Linked DNA regions of Homo sapiens. The protein of the gene in region 2 purifies or fractionates together with the protein of the main gene of each other region. This does not show direct contact. Each region holds a gene or a part of one and is shown on either strand. Other genes may lie near its edges. The genes, in order: ASPSCR1, HACL1, PTPRF, TMEM67, PLXDC2, MME and NT5E.

Evidence for each region.
Region 1: the proteins of HACL1 (region 2) and ASPSCR1 purify together in Homo sapiens (affinity purification with mass spectrometry; 2 studies listed by BioGRID and IntAct, with this or other methods). This does not show direct contact.
Region 3: the proteins of HACL1 (region 2) and PTPRF fractionate together in Homo sapiens (co-fractionation; one large-scale study listed by BioGRID). This does not show direct contact.
Region 4: the proteins of HACL1 (region 2) and TMEM67 fractionate together in Homo sapiens (co-fractionation; one large-scale study listed by BioGRID). This does not show direct contact.
Region 5: the proteins of HACL1 (region 2) and PLXDC2 purify together in Homo sapiens (affinity purification with mass spectrometry; 2 studies listed by BioGRID and IntAct, with this or other methods). This does not show direct contact.
Region 6: the proteins of HACL1 (region 2) and MME fractionate together in Homo sapiens (co-fractionation; one large-scale study listed by BioGRID). This does not show direct contact.
Region 7: the proteins of HACL1 (region 2) and NT5E fractionate together in Homo sapiens (co-fractionation; one large-scale study listed by BioGRID). This does not show direct contact.

Annotation. Positions count from the first base shown.
Region 1 is NC_000017.11:82,008,629-82,012,128, reverse strand, and holds part of ASPSCR1 (tether containing UBX domain for GLUT4), read right to left. Parts: intron 3,093-3,500; coding exon 2,938-3,092; intron 2,644-2,937; coding exon 2,562-2,643; intron 1,328-2,561; coding exon 1,261-1,327; intron 587-1,260; coding exon 524-586; intron 1-523. UniProt on the Homo sapiens protein: Tethering protein that sequesters GLUT4-containing vesicles in the cytoplasm in the absence of insulin. Modulates the amount of GLUT4 that is available at the cell surface. Enhances VCP methylation catalyzed by VCPKMT.
Region 2 is NC_000003.12:15,595,070-15,598,569, forward strand, and holds part of HACL1 (2-hydroxyacyl-CoA lyase 1), read right to left. Parts: intron 1,356-3,500; coding exon 1,315-1,355; intron 1-1,314. UniProt on the Homo sapiens protein: Peroxisomal 2-OH acyl-CoA lyase involved in the cleavage (C1 removal) reaction in the fatty acid alpha-oxydation in a thiamine pyrophosphate (TPP)-dependent manner.
Region 3 is NC_000001.11:43,603,883-43,607,382, reverse strand, and holds part of PTPRF (receptor-type tyrosine-protein phosphatase F isoform 1 precursor), read right to left. Parts: coding exon 3,194-3,500; intron 2,481-3,193; coding exon 2,383-2,480; intron 2,194-2,382; coding exon 1,940-2,193; intron 1,855-1,939; coding exon 1,761-1,854; intron 1,144-1,760; coding exon 925-1,143; intron 570-924; coding exon 415-569; intron 1-414. UniProt on the Homo sapiens protein: Possible cell adhesion receptor. It possesses an intrinsic protein tyrosine phosphatase activity (PTPase) and dephosphorylates EPHA2 regulating its activity.
Region 4 is NC_000008.11:93,792,894-93,796,393, forward strand, and holds part of TMEM67 (meckelin isoform 1 precursor), read left to right. Parts: intron 1-304; coding exon 305-403; intron 404-2,515; coding exon 2,516-2,614; intron 2,615-3,007; coding exon 3,008-3,094; intron 3,095-3,500. UniProt on the Homo sapiens protein: Required for ciliary structure and function. Part of the tectonic-like complex which is required for tissue-specific ciliogenesis and may regulate ciliary membrane composition.
Region 5 is NC_000010.11:20,211,432-20,214,931, forward strand, and holds part of PLXDC2 (plexin domain-containing protein 2 isoform 1 precursor), read left to right. Parts: intron 1-237; coding exon 238-298; intron 299-3,500. UniProt on the Homo sapiens protein: May play a role in tumor angiogenesis.
Region 6 is NC_000003.12:155,083,319-155,086,818, reverse strand, and holds part of MME (neprilysin), read right to left. Parts: exon of another isoform or gene 2,777-3,500; intron 2,662-2,776; 5' UTR 2,652-2,661; coding exon 2,492-2,651; intron 1,761-2,491; coding exon 1,725-1,760; intron 1-1,724. UniProt on the Homo sapiens protein: Thermolysin-like specificity, but is almost confined on acting on polypeptides of up to 30 amino acids. Biologically important in the destruction of opioid peptides such as Met- and Leu-enkephalins by cleavage of a Gly-Phe bond.
Region 7 is NC_000006.12:85,488,083-85,491,582, forward strand, and holds part of NT5E (5'-nucleotidase isoform 1 preproprotein), read left to right. Parts: intron 1-1,411; coding exon 1,412-1,517; intron 1,518-2,425; coding exon 2,426-2,575; intron 2,576-3,500. UniProt on the Homo sapiens protein: Catalyzes the hydrolysis of nucleotide monophosphates, releasing inorganic phosphate and the corresponding nucleoside, with AMP being the preferred substrate. Shows a preference for ribonucleotide monophosphates over their equivalent deoxyribose forms.

The DNA.
Region 1 (3,500 bases), on a different chromosome or scaffold from region 2:
GGGCAGAAGAGCCCCTCACGAGCACGCCCTGTGCCCACACTCCTGCTGCAGAAACTCCAGCTGAGGGCTCGGAAGGGCCGGTGGGGGGCAGGCCCACCTGCAGGGGACACCACCCGTGCAGCCCGGCTCCCCTTGCAGTGGGCAGCCTAACCCTTTGCCACCTAGACACCCTCCAAGGGAGGCCAGCCACTCCCTGTCCACCCACCCTTCCCACAGCCCTCGGGCAGGAGTGGCCTGAGCCCCAGGGGTGGGGACCAGGCTGGGGTGCAGCAGGGCTCCAGAGGGGAGCAGGGCGCTGAGAGAGAAGGCAGGAAGCCTGGCTCCCACCGCCTGGCTCGGGGAGAAGGGCCCTCCTAGGTCTCCACACAGACACCATGGGCTGCAGGAGGCACCTGGGCGGGAGGCCACAGATGCTGCTCCTGTGGAGAAGCTGCCACGAGCCCCAGCTGGGACGGGCGGTGTGCCCACAGCACCAAGGCCCCGAGCACTGGAGGCAGGAGTGGGCTCAGGAGAAAAAACGTACACAGGTAAAATGACAGCTCGGGGTTCCCCAGGTGGCTCCTCACGAAGTCTCGCAAGTCCCCCACTGCAGAGGAGAAAAAGAACATACAGACAGCTCTTCCACCACGCCAGCCCCGGGCTGCCCCAGCACCTGGGCCACTGCTCCCACCCTCCTGGGCCTTTCCCCGAGGGGTGGGAATTCAGCCCTGTTCCTCCCACAGCACTCCAGGTGCTCGGCGTGGCTGGGCCACCGTGCGGGCCACACTTGGGACCCCCGCCCTGCTGGAGAGCACTCCCACTGCCACCCGCTGCCCCCCAGCCCCACCCCCGCCCCAGCCTAAGCGCTTCCCTTTCCCTGGGGGAGGCCCCTGTGACCTTGGGCTGCTGCCGCCCGGCCGTCTGGGTACAGGTCACAAGCCCCTGAATGTCACAGCACCACTGCCCTCCTCCCGGGGTAGGGTGCCTTCCTCTGGGTGCCCCTCTGCCCCACCCATGCCCAGTAGGTGGGCGACGTGAGCACTCAGGACCACGGGCTCCCTGAGCTGGGGCCGGGCACCTGGAGCAAGCGCCCAGCCTGCCTGACACTCTGCGAACTGGGATGCCTCTGCACCCCCAAGGGGACATCAGCACCCGCACCCACCCAGTGCCCTGGAGCCCGCAGGCCAGGTGGCTGCAGTCCTGTGGCCTGGAAGGAAGGAGCCGGGAGAGGCCCCATGGGCCCCTGCCCCCCATCCCCGGACACCCCACAGCGCTGCCCACCTGTCTCGCTGGGGCGGAAGAAGCCCTGTAGGACGTAGCGGTCGGGGAACAGGACCCTCAGAGCCACCTAGGCCAGACAAGTGGAAGGGTTGGAGGGACGGCCGGAGCTGCACCAGGGACCAGGGCGTGGCCTCCCCACTCGGCCCATGCTGGGCCATGGACACCAGGGCTGAGGCAGGCAGAAGCAGCCACCCCCAATCAGGGCCTGGGCTTTGACTCCCCCGTGGCAGGCTGGGCATGGAGACAGCCAAGTGCCGTGTGTGTGCACAGCGGCCTGCGTTCTAAAACCACACTGACCTGGGTTCAAATGTGCTGGTTTTTTTTTTTTTTTTTTTTTTTTGAGATGGAGTCTCACTCTGTCGCCCAGGCTGGAGTGCAGTGGCATGATCTCGGCTCACTGTAAGCTCCACCTCCCGGGTTCACGCCTTTCTCCTGCCTCAGCCTCCCGAGCAGCTGGGACTACAGGCGTGCGCCACCTCTCCTGACTAATTTTTTGTATTTTTAGTAGAGATGGGGTTTCACCGTGTCAGCCAGGATGGTCTCGATCTCCTGACCTCATGATCCGCCCACCTTGGCCTCCCAAAGTGCTGGGATTACAGGCGTGAGCCACCACGCCCGGCTCAAATGTGCTGTTTAAAGTTTCATTCAGCCAGGTGTGGTGGCTCAAGCCTGTAATCCCAGAACTTTGGGAGGCCGAGGCGGGCAGATCACCTGAGGTCAGGAGTTCGAGACCAGCCGGGCCAACATGGTAAAACTCCATCTCTAGTAAAAAAAAAAAAAACAACAAAAATTAGCCGAGCTAGTGGTAGCGGGTACCTGAAATCCCAGCTACTTGGGAGGCTGAGGCAGGAGAACCACTTGAACCCGGGAGGCGGAGCTTGCAGTGAGCTGAGATGGCACCACTGACTCCAGCCTGGGCGACAGAGAGAGACTCCGTCTCAAAAAAAAAAAAAGGTTTCATTCTAAATCATGAGCAGGGGAGGATCAACTGGCCACTAAGGGCATGCGCGCCACCACGGGGGGGCCCTGCTCAGAGCTGTGCCTCAGTCGCCCCCACGTCCCATCCACAGACCTCACAGGGGGCCCCCTCAGAGCTGTACCTCAGTCGCCCCCACGTCCCATCCACAGACCTCACAGGGGGCCCGCTCAGAGCTGTGCCTCAGTCGCCACCACGTCCTGTCCACAGACCTCACAGGGGGCCCGCTCAGAGCTGTGCCTCAGTCGCCCCATCCCGTCCACAGACCTCACGGGGGGCCCCCTCAGAGCTGTGCCTCAGTCGCCCCCACATCCTGTCTGCAGACCTTTGGGTAGCGCTCCAGCTTCTCCTTTATCTGCGCCTCCCTGAAGGCCTTGGTCACCAAGGGGGCTTCTTCCAGGCGCTTCCTGTGGTGAGGAGGGGAAGGAACAGGGCTTCTGGTCAGAATGGGGGCCCTGGCAACAGGCCCCGGGCTCCTCACCTGCACCCTCCAGGGTGGGAGTGGGCTGCTCTCCCCACACAAGGCAGGAAGGTCTGGACGCCCCTCCCTGGGCCCCAACCCTCTGAGGTCCTGTTAAGGGCAGCCTGTCAGGGACCTGGGCCGGGAGCCAGTGCTGGCACTGGGGACAGCGGGCAGCACAAGCACCCGATGGGGCAAACCCTGGCGCGAAGATGCCGGGAGGCACTGAGGGGGCACCCACCGCTCACTCTTGAGCTGGGCCAAGCGTCTTCTCACGTCGTCCACCGTCAGCTCAAAGAACTCATCAGGCAGCTCCGCTGGCCAGGCCTGCAGCCGCTCCTCCAGGTCGGGGTGGCACACCACCGGCTCCCGGTCCACGGGCTCCCGGTCCACGGGCTGGAGGCAGAGGGCGCGGCTGACGGCGGGTGTCACGGGCTGGGCCCTCCGCACCCCGGGCTGTCAGTGCCCCAGCCGAGGTGGTCACACAGACTTGGGAGCTGGGCCCACTCCCTCCCTGGCCCCGGCCAGCGCAGGGCCAAGGCCAGGTCCTGGGGGCAGGGCTGGGCACAGCAGCTGGGGGACCCCACCCCACTCAGAGCCTGTCCAGGGCTGGAGACCCCCCTCTCCCAGTCAGTGCACCAGACCTGATGCTGAGCCCCTGCTCCCCAGCAGGGCACATGGCCCCTGGAGTCTGGCTCAGGCCACGTCAGGGTCTCCATGGGGGGGAGGGGTGGCGACAGCCGCCAAATTAGAGCGTCGGCAAAAACCCCAGTCCAGCTGCCCCCGCTGCCCTCTTGGCCACAG
Region 2 (3,500 bases):
TGAGCCGAGATTGCACCACTGCACTGTCCAGCCCAGATAACAGTGCAAGACTCCATCTCAAAAAAAAAAAAGTATGAACTTTTAACCATTCTCTTAATCATTGTTCTAGCATTTTTTACATTAAGGCATTAATTAATAACTATAATTTAAATGCTTTCCAAGCTAAATGAAAAGATTAAAATATTTGTCATATGTAAATAAAGCGGCAGAAAACAGTGACAATAGTGTTACTTGATGGCCTATTTTTTTCAGGTTCAAATTCACAAGTTCCTTATCACAGAAAAAAAACTATTCTGGTGAGGTCTAGACTTTGAGAATCTTATTAGTTTGCATTTCTTAGCAACTGAATTACTAGTTTCATTTTTGGAAATAAAAAAATGTATTAAAACTAACATATGTGAAAAAAGTATGATACACATTCCTGTGAGAGTCCAAATTCTGCTTAAAAAATACATAGATAAGGGAAAAAACTGGAAGAAAATGACCAATTCTTAACAGTTCTGAGATCATAGGTGATTTTCTTCATCTTTTTTCCTTTTTTTTTTTTTTTTTTTTTTTGAGACGGAGTCTCACTCTATCACCCAGGCTGGAGTGCAGTGGCGCAATCTCAGCTCACTGCAACCTCCGCCTCCTGGGTTCAAGCCGATTCTCCTGCCTCAGCCTCCCGAGTAGCTGGGATTACAGACGCATGCCACCACACCAGGGTGATTTTTGTATTTTTAGTAGAGATGGTGTTTCACCATGTTGGCCAAGCTGGTCTCAAACTCCTGACCTCAGGTGATCCACCTGCCTCAGCCTCCCAAAGTGCTGGGATTACAGGCGTGACCCACCGTGCCTAGTCGATTTTCATTTTCTTCTTTGTGCTTTCTATATTTTCCAAGTTTTCCAAAATGGACATTTTAAAAATGTATTAATTTTTAATAATAAAAAGGGGGTGGTAGTTAGGTAACATGGATACACACTAAAAAATCAGAACGTGTGGAACAGCTCTCAACAGTCACATTTTGAACCAAGCATTTTTGTATTAAGTGTGCTGGGGTAGTTGTGAGATCCAAGACAAGGTATCATACATCAACTCACTATCTGATCACCAGTGATTCACTCTACAAAATGGCAATGTGTTCCACTCTGAAACACTTCTGGTATCATTATTCTTTTGATGTGGTCCTCAGAGAGTTTTAAATGTTTTTTATCCTTTGTTATTTAATATATTTTTCTATAATCTTTCCAAATGAACTCATCCTTCAGCTGAAAGACGTAATAGTTCTACCCCAAAATATTAAAGTAATTGAAGTGAAACAAATTTTAGTTTACCTGCTTGTCAGATATCCAATCGCGGAGGCAGCATAACAAGCCTACGAGAAAACAACACTGGGACTTGAGCATATTGGGATCCTTATAGTACATTTATGACAGCAACTTACTATTAAATAATAGACAAGAACATAGTGGTAAAGGCAGAATTAAAATATTTCCAACCTTAGTAATAAATGTTCTACACATAAATTTCAAATAATGGTTATCTAAATTTTAGTTTTTCAGGAAATTTGTTCATATGTATGTTATTCAAAACATCCTCTTACAATTGCTTAAATATCTGCAGGATCAATAGGAATGTCCTCTTTTATTAACAATATTGGTAATTTGTTTTCTTTCTTTTATTCTTCATCAGTCTCATGAGGGGTTTATCAAATTTATCCATCTTTTCAAAGAACAAATTTTTTTAGTTCTTCGAAAATTTTTGTTGGTTTTTCTCTATTGTTTGTTTTCTATTTCATTGATTTCTGTTCTTGTATTTATTATTTCAGTCATTTTGAATTTGATTTGCTTTTCTTTTTCTAGCTTCTTAAAATACAAATTTAGAACACTGGTTTTTAATTTTCTTTACTAATAATTTGTTTAAAATGATTCCAAGAACTGCTTTAGTTATAGGTTACAAGTTTGAGTTGCATCTTTTCATTATCATTCTATTCAAAATATTTTCTACTTTCCATTGTGATTTCTTCTTCAACCCATTGGTTAATTAGGATCTGTAGTGATACCTCCTTTTTCATTCCTGACATTGGTAATCTGTTTTCTCTTTTATTCTCAATCAGTCTATCTTGAAGTTTATTCATTTTGTTAATCTTTTCAAATATTTACAAAATACCAAAAAGTATGTTGCTTAATTTCCAAAGGTCTGAGATTCTTTTTAGTGATCTCTTATTGAGTTCCACTTTACTTCCACATGGTCAGGTGACATATACTGCACGCTTTCAATCCTTGGCGATTTATTGAGATTTCCTTTATGGCCTGCATATGGATAGTTTTTACCTTGTAACTCTACTTCAGCTCATAATCAGGAAGAGAGGGGGCACTAAATTAAATGCACACAAGATAACCTGGGAAAATGCTGAGTGCTCTCTCAAATTCTTCTTAGTCTGGGACATCATTTTTTTCCCAGTATTATTTCTTCTCATTTCTTTAGAAATAATAATGAATTGCGTATTTCCTAGCCTTCATTCAGCTTTAAATGAAGTAGTATACTGTCTTAAAGAACTCCACATTAACGACATAAATGTGGAAAAAAAAAAAAAGGAAATGTTTATGGATCATAATCTTAACTGGCTCTACTATCATACACCCACTGAGAACCTGCACAAAGACTCTGCTCTTTTCCTGTGTCGCTATTCTCTACTGGCCCCATCTCTCTTTCCTTTTGCACATAAGGCCAAATTCACATTAGGAGAATAAGACAACTCCTAAGAAATGCAGGCATGTAAATACCTGCTGCAATAAGAACACTTTATTTAGACACCCAAAAGAATTGCCCACTTATGATAGCTAGGTAAGAAATGTTGCTAGGCAATGCAAAATATACAACAACACGTAACAAAAAGTATATTCCTCTGGTAGGAAATGTCAAAAGTTGAGAGGTAACTGTTTTGTTTTGTTTTATTTTGTTTTGTTTTGTTTTTTTTTTTTGAGACAGAGTTTCGGAGTTTCGCTCTTGTTGCCCAGGCTGGAGTGCAATGATGCAATATTGGCTCACGGCAACCTCCACCTCCCAGGTTCAAGCAATTCTCCTGCCTCAGCTTCCCGAGCAGCTGGCATTACAAACATGCACCACCACGCCTGGCTAATTTTATATTTTTAGAAACGGGGTTTCTCCATGTTGGTCAGGCTGGTCTCAAACTCCTGACCTCAGGTGATCTGCCTGCCTCAGCCTCCCAAAGTGCTGGGATTACAGGCGTGAGCCACCGCGCCTGGCCATAACTGGTTTTATGACCATAAAAGATCTGTTCCTCTACTAAACTACCTCCATTCACAGGCAGAACAGTGTACATGGTACTTAGAGAGTGGACTCTCGAGCCAATCTGTTTTGATTTAAATCCCAGCTTCCCCACTTTCTACTGTGTAATTTTGGCAAGTTGCTCTAAATCTCTGTTTCTTCATCTATAAAATGAAAATAATTCAAAGCACTGCTGTGAGGATGAAATCAGTTCGTATGTGTAAAACAC
Region 3 (3,500 bases), on a different chromosome or scaffold from region 2:
GCCTAAGCAGGAGAGTAGGGCTGGGGAATCATCCAGGAATGGTGGCAGAAGGAAAGGACTCGAGGTAGGAGCTCAGGAGATGGCGGTGTCTTAAAACTGAAGAGGAGACAGACGCACTCTTATCCACAGAAACACAGAGACAGACAGACGTGCCAGGGATGCACATGAGACAACCCTCTGAGGCTTTAGTTCCTCACGCCCAGGCTGCTGCAGAGGCTCCCTCACCTGACAGATGCAGGCCTGCAGACACAGGTAGGCACACACACTGCTCCTGCCCTTCCTGCCTTCCTGCTGAGCCTGAGGCTCAGGGTCCAGGATGCAAGGCTGCACGCTCTCCACAGGCACCACACCCGGAGAGGGCCTGAAAGGCGAGGGGCAGGTGGCCGTTCCCGGAGCTCTGAGGGCAGTGCTCACCTTTTGAACAAGAGGATGGCGATGACAATGAGGATGATGAGGATGACTGCCAGCACGGGACCCGTCACCCACAGCATCTCCGGCTCCTCCTGCTGCTGGGCTGGTGTCACCTGGACCACGATCTCATCCGAGTAGGGGCTGGAGGCATAGCGCTTCTGTGGCCCGGTGGAGAACAGCAGGCTGTGAGCTCAGCGTGAGAACCCCCCACCCTCTGCCTATTAATCCTGGAGAAAGGGCTCTGGGTCTGGGTTACCCTGGGCCTGGTCTCCCAGACCCTACAAGGTGGACCTGGCAGGACTGGGTCCCTGGAGCCACATTAGGTCTGGCCTCTGGGTCCCAGGGCCGCGTCTTAGGATCCCCGGGACAGATCTTGGGTCTTTAGTGCTGCCCCAGGATCTCGAAGCCCCCAAACTGATAAAGACCTGGGGTCTTGTGGTGTTTGAGACTGGCATCGTCTCAGGCCAGGCCCAGGGAATCAGGGTGCTGACAGCCAAGCCGGCTCAGGCAGACCTGGTCCATGGGTTCCTTCAAGGAGGCAAGCACAAAGCACTGGTAGCTCAAGTCCGGAGACAGGGGCCGGTTGTAGAAGCCCCGGTAGTTCTTCTTGTCCCCCAAGGTAAAGGTCTCCGGGAGCACATCCAGTTGAGCAGCCACATATGGCTTCAGACGTTCTGCCTGCCGCCGCCGCCGCCGCTGCTCCTCTCCGCCTTGCTCGATGGCTTCTAGAAGCTGGCAGAGCAGAGCATGGGGGTCATGAGGGGCCTTGGAGCATGCCGGCCAGCCCTGAGGCTGTGGCCTGGGATGTCAGCTCCCTGGGCCGAGATCAAGGCTCACCTTCCGTGTCAGAGCCCACACCTGCCCAACCCACTGCCCCTACAGAGTAACAGACACCGTGAAGCCACTCCTCCCCACCAGCCCATGAGAAGCAGCCCTGTGTGTAAGCTGCCCCACCCTAACCAGGCTGTTGCCACACTGGCTATGAGAAAGGACTGAAGGATTTCAAACATTCAGGGACTCCTGGCTATAAGGCTCACTAAGCCCTCCATAGCTTCTAGATCTGCGAGGCTCTGCAGTGTCTACAGGGCTTGGCATTCTCTAGACCTGCAGAGGCATCTCCACGACATCCCACCCCAGGGATTCTTCGTAAGCCCTCCGGGAGTTCTGTGAATACTCCCAGATGGTTTCCTCAGAGTCCCTCTCTCCAGAGAGGGGCGGGCTGCCAGCCAGAAGAGAGATTTCAATTTGGGGAGTGAATCTGAGAGTCACTGGGACAGTGCTCAGGGCAGGAAGGCCACAGCTGACCACTGCAATGGGGCTGTCAGTGTCCCCATCCCCTCCCCAGGTACCTCGTCCAGCTCCAGTTCCTCGGGTGTGCTCCACCTTGGCGTCAGCATGCTCCCGCCCACACGGTCAATGGGCACCACAACAATGTAGAACCACCTGGGTGGGCAGGGCAGGAATCAGGACTGTCACTGCTGGTTACCTCCAGCCCTGCCCCGCCTCCCCCGATACCTCGTGTGCACACCTGACAAGCGAGGGGTCTTGCACATGGGGCATGGAGAGATCGAAGCGGCCGTCCTCTATGTAGGCAGAGGCAGGCAGCGGCTTGTGAGGCAGGAGGTCGGGGGCTGTGCGGATGGACACCAGGTGCTGCAGGCCCCCTGCGCTGCTGCCACGGTTCATCAGCACAAACGAGTACTCTGTGTTGGGCTGCAGGTCTGCGATCAGCTTCCGCATCGAGTGCCCGTCCACCTCCACACTCTGCCCATTGTACAGAATCTGTGGGGGACGGGAGGGGCAATCAATGCCTTTGGGTGAGGTTCCCTACCACGGGCTGCAAGGCACAGTGCACGGATACACAACCACATTCCTGCTCCACAGCCGGATGCACATGGGTTAGGACTGGAAAGACAGCACCCAGCAGGCCTGTGTGTGTGCCAGGCTCAGCTGGCCGTGGCCCTTACTCACCTTAAAGGGCACAGCTGACTTATAGGAGTCGGGAACCTCCCAGCTGAGCAGCACAGACGTCTTCATTGCAGCCGCCACCCGGAAGTTCTTGGCAAACACTGCAAAGGCATAGAGAGAGTCAGCTCTGCTGGGTATATGAGGTGGGGTGAATGGGCTGGAAGGGTGGAAGGTGAATGGCCAGGATGAGACACTGGTTGGGGAACAGGGGGTTGAAGGATGGCTGCAGAGTACCAAGCGCCCCACTCCCAGCCAGCTTCAAACGGCACAGTTGAACTCCCAGCCCAAGCTCTTCCACAGTGAGCACCAAACAGGGCGGGGGATGCCACAGCAACCAGGGTCAGAATCTCCAGAAACGCGAGTGTAAAAGCTTGAGCCGATGGACACCAGGCCAGAGTGATCAGAGGGTCAGTGGGTTTCGGTCATGAGAAGCATGTGGCCACACACCAGAGCGTGGTGGAGCATGTTCACTAGAGGTCGGTGGGTCATGGCCCCAAGAGATTAGTGTCACACACCAAAGATCAGGAGGTTGCACACCCAAGAATAGTGACACAGTCAAAAGAGATCAGTGGGTCAAGGTCACAAGAGATCAGAAGGTCATACAGCAGAGGTCAGTAGGTTAAGGACAGCAGAGGTCAGGCATCAAGAATGTGGTGCCCATTCACTAGAGGTTAGTGGTCACAGTCATGAGAGATTGGAGGTCACACACCAGAGGCTGGTGGATCACAGTCGCCAGAGGTCAGTGGCTCAAGGAGAGCAGAGACCCCCAGATGCAGCCACACTCGGGAAGGGATGCCATGTCCACAGCACACACCTTGCTCCACCGGCATGGTCCGGGACTGGATGCTGGGGCTGAGTGGGCCAGAGCCTTTGCTGGTCCATGCGCGGACCTTGATGTCGTAAGTGGTGTCTGGCTTGAGGCCAGTAAGGGTAAAGCGGGTGTCTGTCGTGATGTTCTGCAGCTCCTGTTGGCTGTTGATGTCTCGGAACACCACGGTGTAGCTGATGATGCGCCCGTTCCTCTCCGCCAGCACTGGCGGGTCCCAGGCCAGTTCTGTGGTAGACGTGGTCAGTCCTGTCACATGCAGGTTTTGGGGGAAGCCGCTGGGCAGGTCCTCGGG
Region 4 (3,500 bases), on a different chromosome or scaffold from region 2:
TCCCCAGTAGCTGGGACTACAGGCACCCACCACCATGCCCAGCTAATTTTTTGTATTTTTAGTAGAGACGGGTTTCACCGTGTTAGCCAGGATGGTCTTGATCTCCTGACCTCATGATCCGCCTGCCTCGGCCTCCCAAAGTGCTGGGATTACAGGTGTGAGCCACTGTGCCCGGCTGACTCCTGTGTCCTTTCAACATTTCCCACCCCACCATTTTTTTGAGCACTTCCTTACTTGTTCACAGTGTTTTTGAACACCGATGACAGAAATTACATAAATTCTCAATTGTTCTTTTGTTTTTTAGATTGCTTTGGGTGTATTGGGTGGGCTAGCTGTTTTAGCATCTCTTTTGAAGACAGCAGGATGGAAGAGGCGCATTGGGAGTCCCATGATTGATTTACAGGTATAATCTCAGGAGTTTTTTAAGAATATTTTTATCTTTTGACCATTCTGGATCCTTCTCATAAGACACAGCTAGAGAATAAGTAAAAAAGTTGCATTGAATTTTTCTGGGATATGTAATTAGGGTAAGTATTGCTGGGTCATATGGTATATGTGTACCTCATTTTCTTCCCACCATACTGTATGCCAGTCTATATTCCCACCAGCAATGCTCTTCTTATTTCTGCACATACTTGGCAACACTTGATATTTTTCCAACCTTTTCATTTTTTGCCAACCTCATGGCATATAGTAGTATGTCATTGTTGATTTCATTTTCATTTCTCTGTACTCTTCATATACATTTTAATCGTTTGGGTTTCTCCTTCTGTGAACTGCCTGTTTATATCCCTTGCCCATTTCTCTATTATGTTTCCAGTTTTTATTGTTTATTTGAAGAATTTTTTTTTGTATTTTCTAAATAGTAACCCCTTTTTGGTTTCTGATGTTGAAATATATGACCAAATAAATATGTGACCCATCCGTTATTTTTATCCATGTAGTCCTTTGTTTAACAGAAACTTTCAGGTTTGTTTTTGTTTTCATTTTTGTTTTTTTTTGTTGTTGTTTTTTTGAGACGGAGTCTCACTCTGTCGCTGAGGCTGGAGTGCAGAGGCACAATCTTGGTTCACTTGCAACCTCTGCCTCCCGGGTTCAAGCAATTCTCCTGCCTCAGCCTCCTGAGTAGCTGGAATTACAGGCGCACACCACCATGCCTGGCTAATTTTTGTATTTTTAGTAGAGACGGGGTTTCACCATGTTGTTCAGGCTGGTCTTGAACTCCTGGCCTCATGATCCGCCCACCTCAGCCTCCCAAAGTGCTGGGATTACAGGCATGAGCCACCACGCCTGGCCAGAAACTTTTGGTTTTGATATCATCATATCTGAATATTTTTTTTCATGTTATGATACGTGCTTTTGGGATCTTGTTTAGGAAAACCGTCCCTATATCAAGATCACAAAGATAGTCCACATTTTATTCTATTAACTTTATACTTTCACTTCATGGTTAACCTTTTATTTTTATTAAACATTTAAAAAATATTTACCATGTACCAGGCACTTTTTAAAGCTTTATGTATGTAATTTTCTGAATCCGCACAGTAGCTCTTTGAAGTTAGGTTATTATTATTATTTGCGTTTTACACGTGATGAAATTGAGGTAAAGGTTAAATTTTCTACTCACTTGATTTTTGCAACTCAGTAATAGGTATTTCCGTTTTGTTGATGAAGAACATGAGAAAGGTTACATGGTAGCTTTAACCAAAGTATCTTTCTGATTCCAAAGCCAGTGGGCTAAGGAATCAGCAGGGGTACTTGATTTACTACTTGGGATAGTCCAGAAAGGCTTCCCAGAGAAATGAACTTTAAGTGGGATTATCTGTTCATTCTATAATAGTCACTGAGGCTCTATTGTCTAAGTGTCTGGCACTCTACCAGGAGCTGGAGAATGTGTTAGTGAGCAAAGACAGACATAGTCTGTGCTCTCAGAAATCATGAGAACTTACCAGAGAGGGGAAGAGAAGAATATTTGGTAAAACAATGCCCATTTTATTCCAGAAAGTATTTGAGATGAACGTATGGAGTGGTTAGTCATTGACTACATGGCTGGAACTGGCAGATGAGGCTAAAAAGTTAATTTTGGCCCATATTGTGAAAGACCTTGTGGATCAGGAATTTATATTGCAATGAGGAGTTGTTCATTTTTAACAAGGGGAGTGACACAATCCAATTTACATCTTAGAAAACTAACTCTGGTGGTAGTGTGGAGGAGAGATTAGAGGGGAGGATTCCCAACTAAGAGAAAATTAGGAAGCAGTTCAATTTTCTTAGATAGTGAAAGATGAGAAGAGTTGAAAGAAGAGGCTACCAGGAACGGCCAGAAAGGTAAGGAGCCAAAAGGTAGCAAGGAGGAGGAAGCAGGTGGTCTTTATAGCTGGATCATATGGGGATATGTGAAACAAGGCTTCAGGCTTAAGAAATGGAGTGGATGATGTATAAAAGTGGTAGTGTTACTAAAAGTGGTATATACATGGAGTCTTAAACAGCTGTAATTCTTTTTTTTAAATTGCAGACAGTTGTGAAATTCTTGGTGTACTATGCTGGTGATCTGGCCAATGTTTTCTTTATCATCACAGTGGGAACAGGTCTTTACTGGCTTATTTTCTTCAAAGTGAGTGAGTTTCTGAATTTTCCCCAACTGCCAATATCTGAATAGTTGAAAAGCTTTCTTTATAAAGGAACTATTTTTATTTGAGAGAATTTTTGATCAACAGTATTAAGAAAAGTTCCCAACTCCCCATTCCTTGAGTGTGCTGAGCTTATCGATTACATCACTATCTTCCTCTTTTATGCTTTCTTTGGTTTATAAATTGTGCTTAGTAAAAACCTTGTTCAATTGGAAGACTTAGGTGGGAGGATCCTGTGAGTCCAGAATCAAGTCCTGCCCGGGCAGCATACTGAGACCCTCCTTTCCCAAAAAAAAACAAAAACGAAAACAAAAAACAAACAAACAAACAAAAAAAACTGTGTGTGATAATATTTAATCAAGTAATTTTTATTATAGGCACAGAAGTCTGTGTCTGTTTTGCTGCCAATGCCAATTCAGGAAGAACGTTTTGTCACTTATGTTGGATGTGCCTTTGCTCTGAAGGTAAGTTTTAAAGGACAGGTTACCAAATTTAAAAGGCCTGCTAATGAACTAACAAGTCTTTAAAATTAAAATGCTTTCAAAAATCTTTGGCGTGAAATTCACTTTGGTTTTGAAAGAAAGCATTAATTATTTTATGTGGTAAATTTACTTTTATTTATAGTAGATGCTCAGTCTGAAACTCTGCCTTAAATATTTTTTTCAAAGAAGCCATGAATTTGTATGGCTTATTTGATAAAATGATATTTCAGTATATAACTTTCTTTAAAGTCTGATGATACATTCACAATGGGACAAAATGTCTTCAGGCATGAATTTTGTCTCCATTAATCAAGGGTAAAAGGTACCACTCTGGATAAAGTGTTGAGATCTTAAAAGTTGTTTTGTCTGTCTCCAGATTCCTTTGCTC
Region 5 (3,500 bases), on a different chromosome or scaffold from region 2:
AGTGATTTGGTTGCCATGTGCGATCCTAACAGTGACATCCTAAGGAATGAGTGATTATTTAGCAACCCTCTAAATATTTCCCTGCTTCTCCAGTTGCGAGTTCTATAGAAGAGTTAATGTTATGCTAAACTGAAAATGTGAGAATGAACTACCTACTAATCTTTTACTTTTAATTTCTGTCCACCACCCTGCACCCTATCCTTCCTTTTCTGAACTGCATTGTGGTCTTCTTTGAAGATGTTCCAGTGGATTTGATCGTCATCGGCAGGACTGGGTGGACAGTGGATGCCCTGAAGAGGTACACATGCTTTATTGTGACAGAATCCTGGGACCAAGCTGTCATATACATGTGTTTTAACTGTTAATAATTTTTATTCAAAATTTATGCCCTAAAACTTAATGAAAGGAGAAGAATCCTTCTATAAGCCCAATGTCTGCAAATATTAGGGGTTCGATAACAGCTGGCTATTTTTGTTAAATTAGATAACATTTTCATTACATTGTAGCAACTTGCTACAACCCCTAATAGATGCAGACATGGGGCTTAACTATTTATATGTATTATCTCATTTCATTGTCATATTCATTCTATGAAGAACAGTGCCTGCACTGTCACTACCCCCATATTACCAAGGAGAGAAAGGGGAGGAGTGAGGGGAGCTTGTGGGGAGGGGTGAAGTGTGGGTTCTTGGAGAGTCAGGTAAATGGCTAGGGAATAGTAGGGCCAGGATTGGAATCTGTAGAGGAGTTCTCTTAAATGCTTGCTATTTTTCTAGGATGTACGAAACCATTGTTCCTCTTTGTAATTCAAACAGCAAGACCAGTGGTATTGTGGAGGGTGGAAGACTGCAGCAAATTGATGTGCTGTAATAAATGAGAAATTGTATAACATTAGTTGGCATAGAGAGATGGTATAATGTTAACTCTGAGGGAAACATGATAGAGACAAGGATGCAGTGAAGTCGTGTAAGCAATTGGATACCAGAAACAATTTTAACCCGTTTAAAAGCTTTGCAGTGACTCGCATTTATACTATCATTTCAAGATCATATAAAGATATCCTATAAAGTTTATGAAGAAAAGCATTTACTTCTTCTCCCTTCATTAAGTTTTGGGGTATCAATTTTGAATTAAAACTGCTAACAATTACAAAAGTTTAGCAAAGCAAGCCATGCCAAAATGCTGTTTTAAAAACTATTTGTTCAATGGTTACTTAGAGACTTTTTAAAAATTCATTTTTGGGGGGCATGTTTCATAAAGATCTTGAGCAATACATTTTTAAAAACATTCTTGAACTTTAAATGCAGTATTGCCAGTGTAGCTATAACCAACCTTTTGGCATTTCATTTAGGGAATGACAGCAGTGTGTGCTCATCCGTCTCACCTCACTTATCTAATAACGTAGTTCCAAAGAGTATCTATTGACAAAGCCATAGTTGTGTTTTGAGACAATCATTTCTTTCATATAATCAGTTACCTCAATATAAAATGTTGAAAATGAATATCTCCATATATGTAAAGATTGAGAATGTAATTCAGATGTATATTTTTTCTCCCAAATTTGGTTTATCTTTTCATTTTCTCTATGATTTTATTTCACTAACATTAATTATCAATTTAATCTGTCAAATGTATGAATCTTTTATTTTTATGATGAGTTTTATATGCCTGTGCATCTTCTTTTAGAAGAATTTTCCTACCAAATTCCATCTAGGTGTTATTTTTGTGTATTTTTTTCTGAATATTTTAAAGCTTTGTCTTACACGTCAAAATCTATTCCATTTGGAATTGGTTTTTATGTATTATATAAGGTAGAGATTCAGTTTCGTGGGGTTTTTTTTCTTGATGGATAGCCAAATTTCAAGCACCATTTGTTAACTAATCCTTTCTTTTGGCAATATCTTGCAAAGTCACCTGTTTTATGTATATTTTCTGGGCTCTCCTCTTCTAAAGCTCTGTCAGTACTTAGATCAGTGTCCCACTGTATTAATTTCTATTGTTTTATAAGAAATCTTACTATATACAGGACAAATCTCCTTACTTTTTCTTCTTCACAAGTGTTTGGGTATTTTAGGGCTTTTGTCCTTCATATAAATATTAAACTCACCTTGTCGAGATCTGTAATCCATCTATCAATACATCTTACTAACATTTTATTGGAAATACATTAAATTATGAATTAGATCACATTTCCTAATTACAGAGGCTTTTAAAATTTACCTTTTTTACTATTGACTTCTAGACTAATTGAGTCATCATCAGAGAACATGTTATGATCTTTAAAGTTGATTGGAAATTTTTCATGAACAAGTACATGGGCATTTTGTACAAAGGGTCTATGTGTGTTCAAGAAAAATGTGTGTTTTCCTGTTGGTTGGGTGTCAAGCTTGATAAATGTACTCTTCAGCTATACTTCTCCACTCTCTTTATTTTCACCTTCTGACTTCTTTGAAAGCTTGCCATTTTCATCTTTTCCTCATATTTTTAAACCTCTATTATATGTAATCTCTTTCCTTATTACTCTGTGCTGTATTTGGAGCAATTTCTTCAGATGTATTTACCGGTTTATTAACTCTCCCTTCATCTTGTTTAATATTCTATGTAATCTACTCACTGAAGTAGAAATTCCAACAAACATTTTTCATATCTAAAATTAAATTTGACACTTATTACATCTGCCAAGTATTTTATAGTTTCATGTGAACCGTTCATTTCTCAATTTTATCTTTTATGATTTTAAATATTCCGTGTATGATTTTTGTATATTCCATATTGGATGATCCCATTATCTAAAATTTTGGTGATCTAAATAGTGTGGTCATTGTTTTTGCTGATTCTTTCTCAGACAGCTATTTTTTTTTCTTTTTTAGTGTATATTTGTCTGATCCTATTCTAAGACCTAAATAGGTGATGTTTTCCCCCAAAGAAGATTTGATGATGGGATCCTCAGGATTTTCAGGCTACCATAAGTCTCTGCCCTAATGTGAGGAGGAGAAGTTCAGATTTTTCTCCCCTGTCTACTACTGCTGCAAGGCTTGTTCTCTTTAGAGCGATATTGATTTTGGATTTTTTTCCTCAGGGCAAATTCTGCTTTTTTAACTTCCCTTAATGTATACAGCTCCTACTGTCTTTATAGCACATAGCTTTTGCTTTGTTTTATTTTTTGAGTGGGGAGGGGAATAAACAATGGAAAGGCACCATTGGGATATTCTTTACCTCCTGCAAATCCTAAGGCTTTAAAATTCAAGTTTTATTCAGAATCTACTTGTTTTGTTATAGGAGGGCTATTTAGTTCCTTAGTCTGCCGTTACTGCCAAAAGCAATCTGAGCCTAGGATTTTACCTTAAACGTAGGGTGTTTACTGAACATTATTAGATCCTGTTTACGGAATACTAGGTCCTGTTCATTGACAGTAGAAACACAAAGAGAGAATAATATATGGCAAGTTCCATTCTATACTCCTTGAGTTTGAGATGTGTGTGACATTCACATGCAGACAC
Region 6 (3,500 bases), about 140 Mb from region 2:
AAATAAATAAATAAAATTAAAAATATCCAGCAGAAAATGGTTAAAATTATTTGGAACAGTTTATTTATTTCTTATAAGACACATAGATGTTAGAAAGGAGGTTTAGAATCTCTTGTTAAAGGACACAAATATTGTGTTCATATCCCAGGTGCTGCCCTCAGCTACCACCTTCCTTTTTCTTGAAGAAAGAAGAAATACTCCCATTTTCACCACACTCCAATTGATGGGATTTATATAGCTTCATACACTTCTCTGTTTTCTGCTCTGACTTATTTTTCTTCTCTTCTAATCATTGATGTTGTTTAGCCCTTGAACCTCTTCTTAAGTTTAGCCCTTGAACCTCTTCTCTTCTTTTGAGAACTCAAATACTTCCAAGGCTTCCACTATCACTCCTAAACTGACAGATCTCAAATCCAAATTCCAGCTTCTTAAACCTCATCTCTACCTTCCTCCTGTCTATTTTCATCTTAGACCAAACACATCCACATCCACCTCATAACCTCTCTATTTCTGTGTGGGCTGCCTCCATTCTCTTTAGTCCCTTGGGTTTTAAAACTTGGCATCATTCTCAATTCATTCATTTTATTTAGCAAGTCAGTTCTACTGAGTCACCCAATTCTCCCTCCCCATTATCTCAATAGTACTCTTCTCTCACCACAGGCCAACCTCTTCAGCTTACACTTGGAGTACAGAAGCAGCCCCCACCTGCCTGCCCTCCTTTTCACTCAATCCAGTCAACCTCACATTCGCAGAATCATCTTTCACCTTTGGCCTGATCACTCCTCTGTTCAAAAATATCTGTTTCTCCTGTATTACAATATCAAGGCTAAACATGGATTTCAAGGTTCTCCATAATGTGTCCTTCTATCAAGCGTACACTTTTACTACTTCTCAATAACATAGTTTCTTTCTTTTGTGTTTGGAATTCCCTCTTCTGCACCGCCACATCTAAATTCTAGCCCTGCTTCAAGGTTCTTCCCAAATTTAAGGCTGGGTGCGGTGGCTCACGCCTGTAATCCCAGCACTTTGTGAGGCCGAGGGGGGCAGATCACCTGAGGGCAGGAGTTCGAAACCAGCCTGATCAATATGGTGAAACCCCGTCTCTACCAAAAATACAGAATTAGCCAGGCGTGGTGGTGGGTACCTGTAGTCCCAGCTACTTGGGAGGCTGAGGCAGGAGAATTGCTAGAACCCGGGAGGCGGAGATTGCAGTCAGCCGAGATCACGCCACTGCACTCCAGCTTGGGCGACAGAGCGAGACTCTGTCTCAAAATATAAAAAATAAAAAAAATAAATAAAATGAAATTTCTTCCCAGATTTTAACTTCTCCACCTAGATTTACATGCCTACATCTCACTCCCTTCTTCTCACCCACCTAGTGAGGTGCACTGAGACATTTAACACAATGATACGAAACTTACCATTTCATATGTGTTCATTTTCTTTCTTCAACTACATGGCAAGCTCCATACAAATAGCGATATAGTTTTCTATTGCCCTGCTATACAGCCCAGGGCTGAAAATAGTAATATATTTTTCAGAGTAAACAAGTTAATTAATCTACTACTTAAATATATTTTTATTTCCATTGATTATAGAGCCAGACACATAAATAATTGATCTACAATGAATAAAAGTGTAAACAAAGCAAATTAAGATTAGCATTTAATTTTAAATATTATACATCAGTTGTATAACTATTACACGTAAAAACCATTTCTTACCTGATTTTATGCAGTCTGATGACTTGCAAATACCATCTAGAAAAAGGAGAGAATATACATAAATATTGGCAACACAAATTTTTAAATTTCTATTTTTCTTTTGTTCTTTTAAAAACTGCCAATTAAATAAGCAATTTCTTAAAGCAAGAACTAAAAACTGAACATTATATATCATTGTCAGTGGTTAGAAAAAATATAAGAAAATAAAATAAGTAAAATCTAAATTTAAAATTTTGATTATGAAGAAAAATGTGTTATTATATCTTCTCTACCAACGAAGCCCCAGGCCTATTAAATTGAAATAATCAGTTGTTTTTGCTTGGTAATCATTTTTTTAACCATTAAACAATCAATCTTTTTTCATCCTTGTTGTAAAAAACTTCCAAGACTCAAATTAAATTTGTTAAATTCCTGTGAAGCCGTTTAGAATTTCAATGACACAACAAAAGTTGACTAATGACTATTACTAAAGCTGGCCATAAAATTGTGTATATTTTAATCAAATAAAACCATACTTTAGATTCCTCATAAGTAAGCGTGAGCGCACTAAATATACTTGCAATTAATAACTTAGCTCAAACATAAAAGGCACCGTACTTCAAAGTTAATTATTTTGACATATTGATGTTACATTTTATAAATGAATCTCTTTGTCAGTCTTTAAGTGCCTCTATCCTTAACACATTCGTTGGATAGATGGTAAAAGCATGGAGGAAGATTTCCTTCTCTTTTGCACTTATGGATGCACAGGTGTGGGAGTAACTCACCATCGTAGGTTGCATAGAGTGCGATCATTGTCACAGCTATGATGGTGAGGAGCAGGACAAGGACCGAGAGGCTGATCTCCAGTGGAGTCCATCGCTGTTTCTTCTTTGGCTTTGGAGTGTTGATATCAGTTATATCCATCTGACTTTCTGACTTGCCCATCACCTAAAATCTGCAAAAAATGAAAATACTAATAATGAAAAACAAATAAATAAAAAAGAAAATGTCCAAATGCTTAATGTGGCTGGATAAAAGTAAAAGGCTCAGTTATTTTAAAATAGAAATACATTTTTGCTGTTGAGAAGTCAAAATTTTGTTGCTGAATGCAAAGTATATAGAGCCAAATGAATTTGACAGGTCTCAGTCACAACCTTTTGTTTTTTGTTGCTGTTGTTTTGTTTTGTTTTGCTTTGGTATATCACTGAAAATCTCAGCAAAATTAGACAGTAAGACTTGGTTAAATACTCAAGTAGGATTAATTCAGCAGTTTATAAGCAAATAATTGCTGTACCATCATTAAGAAAGTTTTAAACTCACCCTTTTGAACTCTGGACTAACATCAATGGTTAATTTTATATCTTGCTCCAGTGGCTTCCTTTATAAGCTCAAAAACCAGTGACTAATACCTTGAGGTTTTGACTAAGCAATAATTTGAAATATTAATATAGATAAACAGCAAAACGAATGAACACATGAAGTAGTTTATTTTAGTCATAAAAACAACCTTTATTTTTACAGTTCAAAATTACTACTACTACTGATACCAGTATCTATTAACTGGTTAGACAACATTCTGAAAATGGTCACTCACTGTACCAAAAGATACCTGAATATCCAACCTAACCACGCCCAATCCCATTTAAGAGGGGAGTAAGGGGGATAAGTAAACAAAATAGTACAAAAAGTTACCAAGTTGATACTTGTAGTCCTGTATAAAGCAGGGTATGCAAAAACATACCTGTATTCCTAAAATCTTTCACCTCAACTGGAGATGTGTTAAAAACTTTAAAC
Region 7 (3,500 bases), on a different chromosome or scaffold from region 2:
CTCTTTCACAGGCACAGAAAGACAACACACAGTTTTAATGGTAATAACAAGTCCTATGGCTGAGCAAGACCAGGTATGAAGAACAAGCCCGTCTACTTGTCACCAGGCGGAATGGCCATGGTAGCTCTCTGGGGGCCTTACTGAGCCAAGGTCTCCTATGTCGGACTACTACTTCCATGGGCTCACAGCCTGCACCCAGGGAAGTCATTTCTGTCAGTGCTTGGCATGCATTGCCCAGTGCCCAGGATACAACTGCACTCGATAAATGTTTGCCGTGTAAATGACAACAATCATGCTCATGCCAAGACCAGACTCATGATGTCTCCTCAGCATCATGCAGTCAATGCCAGAGAAGTAGTTAAGGAGAAGCTGGTATATAAATGTTAAGAGAAGTCTGGAGGGAAACAACCCAGGCTGTTGGCAGTGCTTATCCACTCTGTTAAAGAGGCTAGGACAAAGGAGAGCTTTTGCTTTTTATTTATTTATTTATTTAATTAATTAATTTATTTATTTATTGAGACTGAGTCTTGCTCTGTCGCCCAGGCTGGAGTGCAGTGGCATGATCTCAGCTCACTGCAACCTCCGTCCCTTGGGTTCAAGCGATTCTCCTGCTTCAGCCTCCCAAGTAGCTGGGATTAGAGGTGTCCACTACCACACCCAGCTAATTTTTGTATCTTTAGTAGAGACGGGGTTTCACCATGTTGGCTAGACTGGTCTCGAACTCCTGACCTTAGGTGATCCACCTGCCACAGCCTCCCAAAGTGCTGGGATTTACAGGTGTGAGCCACTATGCCTGGCCTTTTTTTTTTTTTTTTTTCGGCTTTTTGTCTCCTAAATGAGAATATATTCATTTTATTTCTTATAACTAAACATATATTTTGTAAAATAAAAGTAAGAATGGATGTGATTCTCCCCAGCTTCAAAAGGCTGTCTCTGTCTTTCCAAAATTGCCAACTTGGGAATCAGCTGCAGACATAGACGTGGAGGCCAGGTTCTCTTTGGCATGAGGTCTGGTGTTGAGCAGGCTCTAGGGCCAAGCCCTCAGAATCAGGCAGAGGGCATGGCCTGCCCTGGAGAAGCCTGTGCAGGAGTGACTCTGCAGGCCACCTTGCATGGGAGGCCCAGTCCCGACACCAGGGCTACAACCGAGAGACCATTTTGCTAAGGCCACCTGGCCTGACAGTATGGGAGTTTTAGGAGGGGGAAATAAGAGTTTGACATGGACTGGTAACAGTATATTTTTACTTCTGGGAGCATAAAATTAGTTCTAATTATAGTTGAGAGATCCCTGGGAACACAGCAGCAGGTGAAAAGCAGCTTTATTTCCTCACTAGAGCTAACCAGATTCCTGGAGCTGATCCTAAGGAAGAAGAGCCAGAGTAACTAGTGTAAATCTGTGCTACTGTTGCAGATTAACAACAACCTGAGACACACGGATGAAATGTTCTGGAACCACGTATCCATGTGCATTTTAAATGGAGGTGGTATCCGGTCGCCCATTGATGAACGCAACAATGGTATGCTCCCAGGCCCAGCTCCTCAGTGTGTCATGTTCTCTCTCTGATCTCCTTTTCTGTTATGGTTCTTGCCCTGAACACACCCATGTGCAGCCTCAGTTCATCTCTGCTGCCAGCCATGTACCAGAATGTCAGTCCTTTAAATTAGGGTTAGCCATTATTAAAGTCTAAAACCTAGCCTGAAGGACACACACAAGCTTGTGTGTTCTTATATGTATTCACACACAGAAGCTGCAGGTAAGGTTAGTGGAACTCAAACTTGGTCTGAATTTCTGACTTACAAAGCTATACTAGTTGTTTCTGATTTATGCAAAATAACAACAGTCACCACCTTGGCATCTGAAAAGAGACAAAATCACCAATCTTCTGTCCTGAAAAAGACATACCACTGGATTAAAATGTTACCTTAGTATATTTACAGATATCCAAGATTATATCATATGGCAAAACAAATCAACTACACAAATACTCAAGACACTCTTGTAGCCCTCCCTGATTTACTGTGAAAACCAATCAGTATCAGTATAAGGCCCCAAACGCATCCCATTGTCAGACAACAGGGACAGGTTGCAGGGGCACATTGTTTGTCTGGAGGAACGGAACAATGCAAAACAAACTACTGGAGATCCAGCCCCAAGCTAGCAGATCTAAGACTGAGCATGGTGAACTTCTGAGGCACAGCCATTTGTGAGCTCCCGCCATCTTGCCCAGTGGTGGAGTGCAGGGCCAGAGGCCTCCTAAACTCATTCCCTTCCTCAGTGTCAGGAACCACTTAGACATAGCTAATGATGCTCTATAAGCTTCCCATGTCCCCCTCATTTCTTCCCCCAGCGCTGAGGGAAACTGGTCATGGTGTAAGCATTTTCTCAAGCTATTTTCCTTCTTGCCTCATCTGTGACTACCCTCAGGCACAATTACCTGGGAGAACCTGGCTGCTGTATTGCCCTTTGGAGGCACATTTGACCTAGTCCAGTTAAAAGGTTCCACCCTGAAGAAGGCCTTTGAGCATAGCGTGCACCGCTACGGCCAGTCCACTGGAGAGTTCCTGCAGGTGGGCGGTAAGTCACCCATCCTGTAGGGCTGGCCCATCCAAAGTGACATGGCATTTCCTGCTGGTTGGCTCAGCTTCCCCTTCACCAAAATTCCTGTGGTCAAACTGGTTTGGATTTTTCCCGACCCAACACCAATACCTTACCCTTTAATGGCTGTGGACTCTCAGAGCCACTAAGATTAGGTTGGGGTCAAAGCCCCAAAGCCCCAAAGCCCTGGCAATAAGCAGTATTTGCCAAGTCTGATTTGGACATCAGATGGGCCCTCTAAGCAGGTCACCTGCTTTGAGGTCTAGTTTCTAATAAAATCTTATTTAAGCATTCAATTATTTTTTTTTTAAATCCTCTCCTCTGTTCTACTCATCGTTGCCTGGAACCATGCCAAGATTTAAAGGAATGCTGTCCAATCTGTATTAACCAGGATGATTCCTGGAAGGAGCAGCCTACTGCACAGACATACCTGAACACCTGGTTCTAGTCCCACTGTGACCTGGGGCAAGTTCTCAACCCCTCTGGGCACAGGGAGAAAACCTTTCCTGTTTATCTCATGGACTGCAGTGAAAGTTGAATGGAAATAAATGCTTCCTAAATTGCCAAGGGCTTCTGAAACACTTTTGTTAATAATTCCACAGTCCAGTGAATTAATCCTTTAAAAGCAATCTTATTTTACCTGGAAATCATAATCTGGCCTCATTTTTTTAACCTTAGGTTGTGGTCCCGCTTGACAGATAGAATTGCTTTCCTGAGTTTTCCTCTGCAGAACACATTGCTGTTGAGACTGAAGGGCTACAGAAGGCAGTGGGGCCCTGTCCTAATGCCTATGGGGCAACCCAAACATCCTCCATTTTCCCAGAAGGGAGTTGAGGGAAAAGCAGTTTTCTGATGCTCTAGCAAAGCACTGCATAGCTCTATGCCTTGTGGAAGTCACCAAATC